2 linked regions of the Homo sapiens genome follow. The protein of the gene in region 1 interacts with the protein of each later gene in a biochemical or structural test. Each region holds a gene or a part of one and is shown in the gene's direction. Other genes may lie near its edges.

Region 1 (7,707 bases):
ACACCACAGTTCACGTGTTTGATGACTCAGGAGGCGTCCATGGCCGGGACCCTCTGGCCCATGCTGCTGGGGGTAGATGTGGGGTCCACGTCATCCCACCCCTGAGGAGCGTGGTCGCACGTCCACCATCCCATCCAGTCCCCAGGGTACCTGCACAGATCGCACGTCCTCAGGGGGCACTGACAGCCTGTTCCCCATCAGCCCTGCCTGGCGTTCCGATCTGTGCTTCTCACAGCCCAGCTGAGGATTTGCCAGAGACATTTGTTTAATTTTAAATTGAGCAGCAAATCCTTGAGCTCAGAAGCTGGAACAGCCTGGGTAGTTGGGCTCAATTGTTTGGAATAATCCATAGTTGTATTCCATGGAAGAAGAGGTGATGGCTTTGCTTTCATTTGAAGGTGAGTGGTCCCTGTCAGTGTGTGTGTTGGACTCAGCACCCCAGATATTTCTGGGACACAGGGCTGCCCCCACCAGGCGGCCGTGCCATGCAGGGCGGGCCTCAGCTCACCCCTGGAGGCACTTGCTCCGGCTCGATCGTTTCCGGCGGCTTCTATGGCCCCAAAGCTGGCCTGGGGCACGGGGACTTGCCACTGTGCTCTCAGCCCGGCCTGTCCTGTGTCAGGCTCCCTCTCCGTCCTCAGAACGAGAGGTGGGGCTGTTGACAGTCATTTTTGTAAACTGTTTTAAGAAACCTGTAAGCAGTTCCTGGAATACATAGAGGGAAGGAAACGGAGCTGGGGTAAGGAAGGGAGCGGGGGAGGGGCCCGGGCCGCGTGCTCATGGCATTTCAGCCATGCTTCAGCTTTTCCCAAAACCCGTTTTTAACACATCATCGAATGTGTGTCAGTTCTCCACTTTCCTTCACCCACGAGGGGTTATGAGGATGCCTTTGATTTCTGTATACAGATTTGCAAGCCAGAAGCATTTTTTCCTAGAAGGGCATAACTTGAAAATGTGCACAGGTGCCTAAATCCTTATCTCACAAACTTTATAGCAAAGAAAGTGTAGTTTTCACATCTCCATGTTGGTTACAGGAAAACGGAATTGTGTCATCCCACAGTTGTGCATTTGGCTCCCCATCTTCCAGTTTTATCGAGGAAAAATTTAATCACAATCTTTCAAACAGAGACGTCTTTCTGACAAAGTCCAGTCACACGGGACCCCTGGGAAGCCAGCCTCAACCTTCCAGGCTGCGAACGTGTGTCGGCCCTTTGGCCAAGGAGCCAGTCACAGTGAAAACCCAAGACGTACATTTCACTCCTTTCTTGTTTTTATTTTTTTGTTTTAGGTTGATCCTCCCACCTCAGCCTCCTGAGTCACTGGGACTACAGGTGTGCACCACCACACCTGGGTAATTTTTTTTTATTTATTTTTATTTATTTACTTTTTGGGACAGAGTCTTGCTCTGTCACCCAGGCTAGAATGCAGTGGCGCAATCTTGGCTCACTGCAGCCTCCGCCTCCCAGGTTCAAGCGATTCTCCTGCCTCAGCCTCCCAAGTAGCTGGGATTACAGGCATGCACCACCACACCCGGCTAATTTTTGTGTTTTTAGTAGAGACGGGGTTTCTCCATGTTGGCCAGGCTGGTCTTGAACTCCTGACTTCAAGTGATCAGCCCACCTCGGCCTCCCAAAGTGCTGGGATTACAGGTGTGAGCCACCGCACCTGGCCCCATTTTACTCCTTAACAGACTTAAATTTTTGGCAAGAAAGGGTGAAGGTACTCAGGTCTCAGTCAGAATCAGGCCCGTGGTTCTGTGCTCTTCCCACGCCCCTGTGCTCTTCCCGCGGCCGGCCGGGCTTTGTGTCATGTCATTTGGGAAGTCGATTATGTTTCCCACAGCTATTCTCCAGTAGCTATGAGAACAGGTTGAAAATGTCTTTCAAGAACAAACCGAAATTGTTTTAAAAGCTCGTGTTTAAACAGAGAAGTCCGTGTAAATGTATTCTAAACTGAGCCTGGCTTCACTCCCTGCCCTGGGGTTCACAGGAAATCTGGCTTTAGCAGTAGGTACTTCCAGGTGTCTCGGGCCCAGTAGGTCCCCTAGAGCTCGACAGACGGGAACTGGAGTCTCCTGGGAAGGAGTTTAGGACAGGTGTCTAGAGTGAGGAAATGGGTAACTCACCGATTTGCTTCTCACACAGGGAAGCCAGCAGTTGTGGGATGCCATTGCCATTGTTGAAATAGGAGTCTCTTGTGCTTTTCTGAATTAAAAACCTTTGCAGTCTTAGATAACATTGTTTCAGAAAACAATGTTTGAAATAGTATTTCAAAAAATACTGAGAATTATTTCCTGCTGTATCTTTTTTCTTTTTCGTTCTGTGTGTGTGCGTTGTATGTAGGCAGACACTGAAAATTGTCTGGTCAAATATAGAGAAATCTATAAATGTGAAGTCTTGTCACTTCCTCAGAGACGGTGCTGCGTTCGTGGCAGGAGGGTGGTGCTTGCTGCAAAGGATGCCTGATTCCCTGTTTGTTCCTGTGCTTGGAGGTGTGGTCAGCCAGGAGGGGCTGTGTCTTCTAAACGCACCTGCCTTTTGATTTTAACCGAAAAGATGATCGCTCCTGAAATGTACATGACAGGTCATTCTAGAAACTAGCCAGATATTGTCCTCAGAAGTCAGCCAGTTAGTACAGGCCTTAGAGAAATTGGGCTGTGGGAAAAATCAGGAATGGAATAAAAACAAATCTGTGGCTTCTGTGGGAGTTGGGGCCACGACAGGGCCACACGGCTCCTCCAGCTCCGAGGGAGACGGGGCCGCGCGGCTCCTCCAGCTCTGAGGGAGACGGGGCCGCGCGGCTCCTCCAGCTCCGAGGGAGATGGAGCCATGCAGCTCTGTGTCTTCTGTGGGTCAGGGCGGGGCCGGGGTGCAAGGACAGAACGCTGCTGTAGTACAGTGGGAGTGTTTTGTTTAGTCTTCCATGATTTACGTCAGTGGGGAATGAGGCTTAGAGTTTTAGAGCTGATTAGGAAATTTAGAACCAACCCATTGTCTAGCCAAATAATTACCAAACTTCTTTGAACTTGCACCCCCATTAGTAAAAACAGTTTTTAAGCATAGGCCTCCAATATATGTACACTGTTGATAAATCACGTGTTTAAATTACATGGCCACGGTCCTGACTCACTCTGTACTTTATGAAACATACATAAAATAGACATTAGAGGGACGTTATAAGAAGTAAATACAGGCCAGGCGTGGTGGTTCTTATCTATGATCCCAGCACTTTGAGAGGCCACGGCAGGAGGATCACTTAAGGCTAGGAGTTTGAGACTGCAGTTAGCCACGATTGCACCACTGCACTCCAGCCTGGGCGACAGAGCAAGACCCTGTCTCTAAAAAATAAGTTAAAATTTATTTAGAAAGAAGTAAGCACACGCAAAGCCTTAGGAATTCTTGGGTCCAGCACACGCCTGCTGTGTTGCGGGCTTCAGAGCCTGGCTGATTCACAGTGGATGAGGCTGGAGCCGGGAGGGGAAGCCATTCATCCAGCGCAGCCGTAGGTGCAGAGCTGAGACTCCACCTCCCCGTCAATCAGTAAACATGTTAAGCCATAGAATTTTATTTGTCTTAAAACTTGGTGTTATAGAAAAGCTCAAAAATGCACAGAAGAGGGGCAGGCAGCAGAGCGACTGCCAGCTTCAGCGCTGACCAGCCCTTGGCATGCGTGTTCTGCCTGCCTGGGGCCACTTTTCTTTTTAACTTTGGAGGGCGGGGAGAACTTGGGCATGTTGTAAAGCAGATAATGCAGTGCGCCGTCATTTCCCTCACAGGTGCCGTGTGCATCACTAACGCAGCTTCTCCACCACATAGCTCAAGTGCCTGTTCACATTTCACAAAATAAGCACAGATTCCTTAGCTCCCAGTCTGTGTTCAGTTTTCCCATCAACAAGCACGCCCTTTTATGGTTGACATGCCGGCACCCTACCTCCAGCGCCTGGGGGCTCTCCCTGCAAGGGCTCTCCCATGGCTGCTGCCCCTCGTGAGCCGTAGACTAGGAGCCCCGGGCGGGCTCTGTCGGCCCTGACACTGGGGCCGGAGCGGGAGCCCTGTATTAGTCCATTCTCATGTCGCTAATAAAGATCTACCACAGACTGGGTAATTTATAAAGAAAAAGAGGCTTAATGGACTCAAAGTTCCACATGGCTGTGCAGGCCTCACCATCATGGTGGAAGGCAAAGGAGGAGCAAAGTCACGTCTTACGTGGCGGCAGGCGAGAGAGTGTGCAGGGGAACTGCCCTTTATACTAACATCAGATCTCGTGAGACTTAATATCAAGAGAACAGCACGGGAAAGACCCACCCCCATGATTCAGTTCCCTCCCACAGGGTCCCTCCCAGGATACGTGGGGATTATGGGAGCTACAGTTCAAGATGGGATTCGGGTGGGGACACGACCAAATTGTACCAAGCTCTGACGGTGCTGCCGGTCTCTTCCAGGACCTCTACCTGGAGCGCCTGCTGCTGTGTGTGCAGGCTCTGGTGTCTGTGTGTCATGAGGACTGTGGCGTGGCCAGCCTGCAGCTCTTGGACGTGCTGCTGACAATAGTGGCCCTCGCAGGTGCTACCGGCCTGAGGGACAAGGTAAGGCTGACAGTGGTGGCTGCTGCTTGACCTAGCGGAGCTCACAGCTGGAAGGCATCTCTAAGTGAGGTGAACTGTCTCCTATGCATCCCCTCTGTGCTTGACCAGCAAAGACCAGGGATTGAGAACCTTGCGGGTGAGTCCCCGGGCAACGGCCTTCGGGGCAGCTCTCCAGCTGCCAGTGTATTCTGGCATCAGGGAGTGGAGACAGCTGTTTAATGTTAGGGTCTTCAGCAAAGAAGCAAACAAGAAATAAGACGTAACCTTTAAACCTGCGCACTTGAGTAGGGTTTAATAGTGCACATGTCGCTGGGCGTGGCATCTCACGCCTGTAATCCCAGCACTTTGGGAGGCCGAGGTGGGCGGATCACCTGAGGTCAGGAGTTTGAGACCAGCCTGACCAACATGGTGAAACCCCGTCTCTACTAAAAATACAAAAAATTAGCCAGGCGTGTTGGCATGTGCCTGTAGTCCCAGCTACTCAGGAGGCTGAGGCAGGAAAATTGCTTGAACCAGGGAAGCAGAGGTTGCAGTGAGCCAAGATCGTGCCACTGCACTCCAGCCTGGGCTGAGCAACAGAGCGAGACTCCGTCCAAAAAAAAAAAAAAGTGCATGTGCATGTGTGACTGAGTCGAGAGAAGATACCGTGATTTCCCGCTCTCATTGCAGCACAGCGTTCAGAAGTACTTCTCGCCCATGGGCTCCCTGTTTATGCCCAAAAATCATCTTTTTTCTTCAGTGGAGTCTCGCTCTGTCACCCAGGCTGGAGTGCAGTGGCGCGATCTCGGCTCACTGCAACTTCTGCCTCCCAGGTTCAAGTGATTCTCCTGCCTCAGCCTCCTGAGTAGCCGGGATTACAGGCGCCCACCACCATACCCGGCTAATTTTTATATTTTTAGTAGAGACAAGGTTTTGCCACGTTGGCCAGGTTGGTCTCAAGCTCCTGACTGCAGGTGATCCACCTGCCTCAGCCTCCCAAAGGGCTGGGATCATAGGCATGAGCCACCGCACCTGGCCATTATGCCCAAAAATCTTTTAACCCCAACCTTCTAATGGGCTTCTAGGGCCCCTGGAGGCCCCAGTATCTGTCTGCCTCTCTGGAAGCTGAGACTTAGTTCCTCCTCCCATTCTGTCTCTGTGGACAGCCCCTCTCGGCAGATTCTCTCTCTGGGAGATTTACGGCCTGAATGTACTATGGGGAACCTGGTGTGGAGGAGGCTGCTGCCCTCCCCTTCCTTCTTGGGGCCTCTAAAAACAAGCTTCCCAAGGGGCGTGTGTCTCAGCAGATGCTGTCACTGTTAGGGCCTGAGGTACCAGCAAAAGCAAAGTCTTTGCCTGCTGGTCATGGGGGACGAAGCCAGGTAGCCCCAGATTCAGACTCCAGGCTTGGGGCAATGGCCACCGGGGAGCCTCAGCCCTTCCTCTGTTCCTAAGCCCCCAAGGAGAGCAGCCAGCTAAAAGTAAAAGGTGGCCAAGGTTATCATCTCTGTCTGCCCAGTTACTTTTACCTGGAGGTCTGGTCTGCTGGGCTTAACTCTTTAAGCCACTTGCCCGCCCCTCTCTGCTCCTCACCACCTCAGAGGAGCCCTGCCTGCCCAGGCGGACACCACGTCCGTGTAAGCCCCAGGACCACCTGTGCTGTGTGCATCCCAGTGTGCACAGTGCCTGCTTCATGATTCGCTGCAGAGACGGCGTTGGTGTGAACGGGATCAGGGTCTCGCCCTGCACCCGCGGCTCTCGCTCTCCTGCACCCTGGGCGGGGCTCCCTGTGGCAGCCTCCCTCCCGATTATCCTGGCAGGCCCGGCCTGTGTGGTTCTTACGCGTGAGGGGGATAGTGAGTCCCAGCAGGCAGGCAGGCTTGAGCCCTGAGTGTTGGAATTGTCTCAGTCTCTGACTTGTAACCTCCAGGCACAGGAGACGATGGACTCACTGGCCATGGTGGAGGGTGTCAGCAGCTGCCAGGACCTCTACCGCAAGCACATTGGTCCCCTCCTGGAGCGGGTGACCGCGTCGCACCTTGACTGGACCGCACACTCGCCGGAGCTCCTGCAGTTCAGTGTCATCGTCGCACAGTCAGGTGAGCCGTCCCGACAGCTGGCGTGCCGTGCCTGGCCCCACTCAGGCTACACACCTGCTCCCCCAGGTGCTCAGCAGGTACCAGCGCCGACCAGCTGAGCTGTGGTTCACTGAAGCGTGTTGTTAAAAGTACCCAATAGTCACTCTTGCCTGGGGAGAAGCAGCATTTTAAGGAGCATCGCATTGAAGACTGTGGGACGCAGCTCTTCCACTTGGCCCGGGCACACGCTTTCATGTGAAACCTTCAAAGTGTGCTTTTCCGTGGCCTGTTTTGTAGCCTGGCTTCTTAAATACGTCTGGATTTTGTTGCAGAATCTAGATGTCTAGCCGCATGGGTGCTGTGTGTGTGACATGGGGGCCTTAGCCCCAGCCCCTCTGAGACCAGCATTTCTGTGGTTCTCTTTGAGCCTGCGGATCAGCCACTTTTCCTGGGATGGACAGTGTGGCCCAGTGGGGCTTCAGCGCGGGGCAAGATCCACTGCAGAACCCTAAGGAGACGTCCGCTCAGCAGCCATAGTGCCTTGGGACACACGGCCCGCGCTGCTCCACGGGCCGTGAACTCGCCGCGGTAGCTCTTCCTCGTTTGCCTCCCCGGCCCTCCCGCTCCCGCCTGCAGCTCCGAGTGCCCCCGCCTCCTGTTGGATGTGTGCACCAGGGTGGTCGTGCTCTGCATCTGAGGATGCTAAGATCGTTCTTACACAATCTCTGTGCCTGGTAGGGACTCACCTTTTTTTTCCTGAGACTTGGAAAAATACCCAAAATTGTTCTTTGTCAGTTGCATTCAAAACTGTTTCCAAATTAGAAAAGAAAATACTGGCTGGGCGTGGTGGCTCACGCCTGTAATCCCAGCACTTTGGGAGGCTGAAGTGGGAGGATCACTTGAGCTCAGGAGTTCGAGACCAGCCTGGCCAACACGGCAAGAGCTCATCTCTACAAAAAGATGAAAAAAACCGCACGTGCACCTCTGAATCTAAAATTTAAAAATAAATAAAATACAGTTAGCCAGGCGTGGTGGTGTGCGCCTGTGGCCCCAGCTACTCAGGAA
Region 2 (7,707 bases), on another chromosome or scaffold:
CCTCTGCCTTCGACCGGATCCTGGTAAGTGGCCATCACCCTGCCCTGCGTACGTGCGTGGGTAAGCGTGGTGTGTGGGTGTGGGTGTGGGCAGTGTGCACGCGAGCATGGCACGTGCACTGTGTCCATGTGGCTGTGGGTGAGTGTCCGTGTCTGTGTGTGGGGGTGTATGTGTGGGGGACGCGTGGTCCTTGTGGGTGTGTCTGTGTGTGTCTGGTCCGTGTGGGTGTGTGTGGCAGTGTGTGTGGGTGTGTGTCAGTGTGGGTGTGTGTGGGTGTTCCCTCAAGCTGTTGCTCCTCCTGGGGGAGACTGAGGCCTGGCTTCTCCGTTCCCCTGCAGGTATAGGGAACTCAGACCTGGGGACCATGGGAGGCCCCCCACCAGCCTGTGCCTCCTGGCTGTTCTGACCCCCACCCTCTGCCAGCCCAACGTGGCAGCAGTCAGGGCCAGGGGCAGGCCCTGGGAGAGGGGCTGGGTGGGCAGAGGGTGGTGCCCATGGCGCCTGTGGCGTCACAGTCTGGGAGGCTGGTGCTGGGAGGGAGCATTCGGGGTCTGGCCTGGCCTCGCCGTCCTTGGTCCTGATCACCGCTGGGTCTCACTTTGTCCTCTGCAAAATGGGAATGAAGTTGGAGCCAAATGGAGTGGGTCTGGGGCCAGGAAGGCACCATGGTAGGCAAAATGCCTGTGTATGAGGGTGGTCACCCTCTCAGGCAGGGCCAGAGACTGTCAGACAGGTGGGACTTGTGCTGAGGGAGACCAGGTGACTGCGCCCAGCCCTGTGACTGCACCTGGCCCTGTGACTCGTGTGCTGAGCCGAGCATTCCCAGGGAACCCACACAGCTGGACGAGGGCCACTCTATAGAGGGGAGGCTTCCTCAGAGAGGGGCCCCGCCGACCTAGCCAGGCAGCTGCTGTCCCCTCTGTGAGGCCTCAGGCTCACTCTGAAGAGCCTCTTGAGGGGCCGGGGACATCAGGGCAAGCCAGCCGCTGCTGAGCCTGGGGTGATGGAAATGCCGCTGCTGTGACCGGGCCAGCCATGCACTCCCAGCCTGCAGGCTGCTGGGTTTTCCAGCCAGTGTCTTGGATGCCTGATGCCGGGTGTGAAACAAAGGACAGTTGATCGCCCCTAGCCGCGGCTGTCACCCAGAGCGTCAGCATTCTTGTGCTCCCTGAGCCCGTATTCCCACTGGGTGCTGCGAAGGGGCCAGGGGACCCTAGCACGTGCAGTGGTAACCTGCACTTTTCCAAGGAGCCTCATCCTGCATGGGGGGTGTCTCCGAGGCTGCTCCCTAAACAGCGTCCTGGAGAGACTGCCCAGAATAAGGTGCCGCCTGTGCCTCACTTGCAAGATGAAAAAACCTGTGTGGAACACGGAGGGCTGTCTGTGGCCCCGGGGGTCCAGCTGCTGGGCTTCTACAGGGCTGGCCACTGGTGGTCATGGGACGGCCACGGCAACCGCAGGCCTGGCTTTCTTGTCCACTGTGGCCGGTTCCCGGGGTGGGGCTGGGGCCTGCCTTTGCAGTGTGTCCCTGGGGGGCAGCTCCTGGATGTGTCCTCTGCCCAGCCCTTTGGCCGGTGCGGACACACACCAGGGAAGTCACGACATGAGGGCCTCCACGGGAGGATCCATCGCAGCGGATGGGGCCCTGGGGACCTGGCTCCCGCCCTTGCCTTGCGCGCCTAGCGATGGCAGCGAGCGACGGTGGGTGGGTCGCATTGCATGGCACCCTGCAGCCAGCAGTGCAGGCTGGGCCTTCCAGCAGGGCAGCGAGGACTCTGTGAAATGGTGTCTGGTGTGCCGTCGTGAATGCTGGTCAGACACGTTTCCATCTCTGATGCCACCTGTTCTGGAAGCTTCCGTCAGCGTGGGGGGCTCTGGAAGCTGGGGTTTGCACATCTACAGAGGATGGGCATGTGGCTTGGGGTAGAGGGACCAAGTGGGTGTGCCAGCCTGAACCCTTCCCCACAGAGCAGCAAGATGGGCATGGAGGCGGTGATGGCGCTGCTGGAAGCCACGCCTGACACGCCGGCCTGCGTGGTCACCCTCTCGGGGAACCAGTCAGTGCGGCTGCCCCTCATGGAGTGCGTGCAGATGGTAAGCCCTGGGCCCCCCCCATCAGAACCGCCTGGCCCCTCTCCCCAGTCCCCACTCACAGGCCCCACTGCTCTCTGGGGGCCCCAGCACTGTGAGCACCGGAGGGCAGGGCCTCGTGGCTGGCCCAGGGCATCCCAGGTCTCCAGGGAGGGGAGGGATGTGAGCACATCCCTGGGTGGGACGTGGGACCTGGGACGTTCCCCAGGAGGTGTGTCGGAGCTGCAGGGAGCCTGGTGAGCATGGGAAGTCACAGGGGTCCACGGCCACTGAGCTTCTGTAGGCAGTGGTGGGAGTTGGGGTTACGATGGGACGGAGGAGGAGGGGCCAGTGATCAGAGCAGAGCCCTGGGAGGAGCTCAGGCAGGTGATGGGGAACACTGGGGTGGCTGGAGCAGGGACCCCAGGAGAGGAGGTACGGGGAAGGCAGAGGCGAGGGGGCCGGGTGTGGGGGCTGGTCCAGCCCTGGCTCGGTGGGTTTGGAGGCCTGCAACTGGGGCAGAGTGCCCTGCCTGGAGCTGGAGCTGCTGAGAGGTGAGGAGGGCAGCTGGGGGCAGGGTAGGGCCTCCTGGTCTCAGCCAGCCCCAGAAGAGCTGGCCTTGGTGGTGACCGCTGTTCCTAGGGAGAGGCTGCCAGGCCTGGGCCAGGGTCAGGAGATGCCGGCCAGATCTGCCCTCGTCAGGCCCACCAGACAGGGCAGTAGCCATGGGTGTGCGGGCCAGGCTCTCCATAGTCTGTGTTCTGTTTCTCTTCCTTAAGACCAAGGAAGTGCAGAAAGCCATGGATGACAAGAGGTTTGACGAGGCCACCCAGCTCCGTGGTGGGTAAGCCCCCTCAGCAGACCCCTGCACTCTTACATGGCTGGGTCCCGGTGCCAGGCAGCATGTGCTGCAGTGGCGCTATGCACGCCTGGCCTGGGTCATCCTTCTAGGCACCGCGTCTGAAGATCGAGGGAGGAAGGGGCCTGCGGGTGGTACAGGAGGCGGGCTGGGAGGTGTGGTACCACAGGAGACCCTGGGCGGTGGCACGGGCAGGGCCCAGTGCACAGGGATCTGGGCATGGCGAGGGGATGAGAAGCTGTGGATACAAGCCCAGGACATGGGGTGGCCCCGCGGGGGCTGGGAAGGCTGGCAGATGTTGGGTGTGGGTACCACCCCCCTGCAGGCGTCCTGGCGGCCGGGTCAGGCTGGATTGGACGTCTGGGTTCCCATGCGTGCCTCCACCCGCTACCAAGGTGGCCAACCCTCCCTTGAGCTGGATGCCGGCCACGTGCTTTGCTGCACGGGCTGGCGTGGCCTCGTGTTGTGTTGGGGGTCTCGCACCTTCTGTGGAAGGTGCCCTGCCTGGCATGCGCGGTGTCTGCTGCCTCATGGCTGAGCTTCCATCGGGCCGTGTGCCTGTGACCAGCCTCCTGGGCTCTGTCACGGCTGCGCTGTGGCTGTACGCCGTGGCGCTGCAGGGCTGTGCATGGTGTGACCCGAATCCCTTCCAGGAGCTTCGAGAACAACTGGAACATTTACAAGCTCCTCGCCCACCAGAAGCCCCCCAAGGAGAAGGTGAGGCAGGGAGCGGCGCCCACAGAGGGAGGAACGGGCTCAGTTATTCTGCAGCCTCTTCACGCTGGCCCCGTGGCTGGGCCTGCCTGCCCCCACCTTCCCTCCTGCTGGGGTCCGAGCTGTGAGCTGGGAGGGTGGGCCTGACCTCTGCCTGGGCTCAGGCACCACTGTGGCTGGCAGGTCCCGGGTGCTGGGACCCTGGCTGCAGGGCTGGCTGTTGCTTCTCAGTGGTGGATGGAAATGAAGTCAGGCCACAGGCTTAACTCAGGAGAGGAGAAGCCATTGTGTAGAAAATGTCCCCCGGGGCCAGGCTCACACCTGTAATCCCAGCACTTTGGAAGGCTGAGGTGGCCAGTTCACCTGAGGTCAGGAGTTCGAGACCAGCCTGGCCAACATGGTGAAACTCCGTCTCTACTAAAAATACAAAAATTAGCTGGGCGTGGTGGTGGCACATGCCTGTAATCACAGCTACTCAGGAGGCTGAGGCAGGAGAATAGCTTGAACTTGGGAGGTGGAGGGTGCAGTGAGCCGAGATCGTGCCATTGCACTCCAGCCCGGGCGGCAAGAGTGAAACTCTGAAAATAAAATGTTCCCAAACAGCTGAAAACCTCAGGAAATGGGATCTCTCCAAAATAAGGATGAAATGGCTTGTTTCTAAAGTCCTGGGGGACGAGGGTCCTGTAGAGAGAGTCACGGCCAGTGAGGTCCTGGCTCCCAAGCCCCTTGAGCCACAGCCGGAGCTGCAGGCCGGGGCAGACAGCGTGGCCCAGCCTGAGTCTGGTCCTCCCTTCCATGGACATCTTTGGGTGTCCCTGCTGCTCCAGCCTCCTGCTTATCCCCAGAGCTAGTCAGCGGGCTCTACCCTCCGTGGTGGGGCAACCTGGTCTCCACGAACCCAGAACCTGGCAGGGGCGTGACTGGCTTTGTGGGCAGCAGGGCTGGCTCGTACCAGGACCCAGTGGGGCCATGTGGCTATGGAGCCCTTGGGTGTGGCTGCTGCCAAGTGGGATGTGCTGCACGTGACAGGTGCACGCCAGGTTCAGAGCCTCAGCACGGTGGGTGGAGGGGAGGTGGTGGCGGCCGTCACTGGATTCACATGGATGTGGTGGGGTTTTGGGTCCATCAGGTTAAATTAACTGTAGTCCTGATGGGACTGTCTCCATGTCTTTTCCCTTCCCTTAACGTGGCTACTAGAAAACAGGATAGCCAGGGCCCCTTCCTTACTCGTGGCTGTGCACCCCCCACCCTCCCGCCCGCTGCCAGCCCCTTGTGTGGGCACTGACCTGTGTTCCCGCCCGCAAGCCTGGCTTCACAACAGTGCTCGCCCCTTCTGCCTCCTCTGTTGCCTGCGTGCCAGGGGGCCAGGCTTGCACCGTGTCTCTTTTGGTCTTCACCAGAATCTTCTGGAATTAGAACAGATACCGTATTCCCAGGGCAGTTGGGCGGTGTGCTGGGCAGCGTCCAGGCTGCTGGCAGGGCCTGGCCCCTTTTTCCAGAACCTGCCGGCCTGCTGACCTCCTGTGCAGGTTGGGGGTCCCCTCCCCGGCTGTGCCTCACGCTCATCTCCCCTTCTCTCTGAAGTCTAACTTCTCCCTGGCCATCCTGAATGTGGGGGCCCCGGCGGCTGGCATGAATGCGGCCGTGCGCTCGGCGGTGCGGACCGGCATCTCCCATGGACACACAGTATACGTGGTGCACGATGGCTTCGAAGGCCTAGCCAAGGGTCAGGTGGGTCCGGCCGGGGCAAACAAGTGAGGACTTGGGCCTTCTGTGTGCACACTTGGGGCATTTCCTGTGGAAGGCCGGCTGCTGGAGGTGGAGGCTGAGACCTGGGTCCGCGTGTCGGTGCCCACCCGGGCCTGGGTACTCAGCTCTGCCTGCAGCGTGATGCCCAACACTGGCTGGCCCCCGGGCACAGGCCCACCCCTGGGGGGAATTGGCCAGAGGCTCAGGCTGGCCCCTGAAGCTGCATCTCCTCCTGGCAGGTGCAAGAAGTAGGCTGGCACGACGTGGCCGGCTGGTTGGGGCGTGGTGGCTCCATGCTGGGGACCAAGAGGTGAGCTGCCTGCTGCGGGTACCTGGGGGCAGGAGGGCCAGGGCGCAGTATCCAGGCCCTGCAGGTGGGGGCGGCAAGGGGAACCCAGCCCGGGGCCCTGGGCTCGGCCCCTCTTCCTGCTGGTGGTCTGCCCAGAGCAGGCTTCACGCCTCCTGCCTGGGGCTTCCTGGCCTGAGCTCCGCTGTGTAGGGCAGGCTGCTCTGGCGGCCCCATGCCCATGGTGGGCTCTCCGTGGCAAGGAAGCTGGCGAGCGTCTGTCCCTGCCTGGCCAGGCCAGGCAGCCTGCACTGTCAGCACTCTGGCTGAGGCTATGGGCCTGTCTGATGGCTTTTGTCCCAGGGCCTGAGACCCTTCTGTGGGCATGGGGTGGGCACAGTCCCCCTGTGTGACTACAGGGGAAGTTGCTGAGTCCTGAGCCACTGAGTGGCTGCAAGGGCCAGAGGAAGCATCCGCTCCTGCCGCTGAGTGTTGGGCGAGAAAGCCTCGGGCAGGAAGGGGTTCCCACGGGGAGCCCAGCGGGGTGGGGGGTTCACTCGGTTGCCTGGCCGGTGCCTGGTGATGCTGAGTGGTGCCCAGGCGGCTCACGCTGGGCCTGTGTGTCCCTCTCCGTGTGGAGCCACAGCGCCACATCCCGGGCATTGCAGCGACTGCTGACTGGCTCGGGGAACGGCCAAGGCAATGCCTTTCTGTGATCAGATGCAATCTGGACACGCGTCCCCGGGTGCTGCGTGTTCATGCGGATGTGTCTTTGACTGCAGGACCCTGCCCAAGGGCCAGCTGGAGTCCATTGTGGAGAACATCCGCATCTATGGTATTCACGCCCTGCTGGTGGTCGGTGGGTTTGAGGTGAGAGCTGCCCACGGACGAAAAAGCCCCAGGGCACAGGAGACCCAAGGTGTCCTCCCGCCGAGGGGGCCCATCCTGAAAACCCGTGTGCTGGCTGGGCCGATGCAGGGGCCGAGAGGGTCGGGGTTTTAAGTGCTGTGTGTGGGCTCGGGAGGGCACCCGTGTGCCAGCTGGGCTGATGCAGGGGCCGAGAGGGTTGGGGTTTTAAGTGCTGTGTGTGGGCTCGGGAGGGTTCTTTACTTTCTCCGGAAAGCTTCACAAGGTTCCGATTAACCCCAGTGCTGGGGAGGGGCAGGGGAGGAAGGGGACTCGGAAGCTGGAGGACGAGAAAGAAGGGAGGCGGAGGAGGCAGAGGTGTAGGTGCTGGACGGCATCGCTGAACGTGGTGTCCTGGCACTGGGCAAGCTGTCACTAAATAATGAATAAATGACAGCCCTTCCCCCTTGCCCTCCATGGAGTGGATCTGGGGTCAGAGTGGGTTGGAGGAGACTCCTGACCCTCCTTAGAGTCCAGTTTCCCTGGTAGGCATCCTGAGATGACACCAGGCTGACTGCCTGGCCCAGCCCCAGGGGATTGAGCAGGTGGGTCCTGGCGTCCAGCACGGGGCACATGACAGGTCAGCAGGGAGCAGGGCTGGGCGGCCGCCGGCAGAGCCTGTCCCCGGCCCACCCTGGCCTCGGTGCTGCCCTTGACCTGCCCCGTCCCTACTGCTGCAGGCCTATGAAGGGGTGCTGCAGCTGGTGGAGGCTCGCGGGCGCTACGAGGAGCTCTGCATCGTCATGTGTGTCATCCCAGCCACCATCAGCAACAACGTCCCTGGCACCGACTTCAGCCTGGGCTCCGACACTGCTGTAAATGCCGCCATGGAGGTACGGGGCTCCTGGACACCGGCCTGCCATGCCCAGGCCCTTGTGGGGTGGGGCTGAGCCTACGGAGGCTGCTGGAGGGGATAGTGTGTGGTGAGCACCTGGGAGGGCTGCCAGGGTTGGGGTTTGTGGGGCACAGGCCCGGGTGAAGGGGCTCAGCTCCCTGCCATAGCCACTTCCAGGTCCAGGGGGGCCCTGCGTTGTTCCTCGCTACTGTGATGAGCTCAGATGGGGAGACTGAGGCGGGAATGTCCCTGCGCCCCAGTGCTGGGTAGTCTAAGAGCAGCGCCTGG

Evidence for each region. The genes of interacting proteins can lie anywhere in the genome.
Region 2: the proteins of DNAAF5 (region 1) and PFKL form a complex in vitro, tested with the Homo sapiens proteins (one study listed by BioGRID).

Annotation. Positions count from the first base shown.
Region 1 is NC_000007.14:757,312-765,018, forward strand, and holds part of DNAAF5 (dynein axonemal assembly factor 5), read left to right. Parts: intron 1-4,441; coding exon 4,442-4,585; intron 4,586-6,494; coding exon 6,495-6,663; intron 6,664-7,707. UniProt on the Homo sapiens protein: Cytoplasmic protein involved in the delivery of the dynein machinery to the motile cilium.
Region 2 is NC_000021.9:44,316,502-44,324,208, forward strand, and holds part of PFKL (ATP-dependent 6-phosphofructokinase, liver type), read left to right. Parts: coding exon 1-23; intron 24-1,968; coding exon 1,969-2,094; intron 2,095-2,849; coding exon 2,850-2,914; intron 2,915-3,582; coding exon 3,583-3,646; intron 3,647-5,227; coding exon 5,228-5,374; intron 5,375-5,631; coding exon 5,632-5,702; intron 5,703-6,460; coding exon 6,461-6,548; intron 6,549-7,264; coding exon 7,265-7,417; intron 7,418-7,707. UniProt on the Homo sapiens protein: Catalyzes the phosphorylation of D-fructose 6-phosphate to fructose 1,6-bisphosphate by ATP, the first committing step of glycolysis.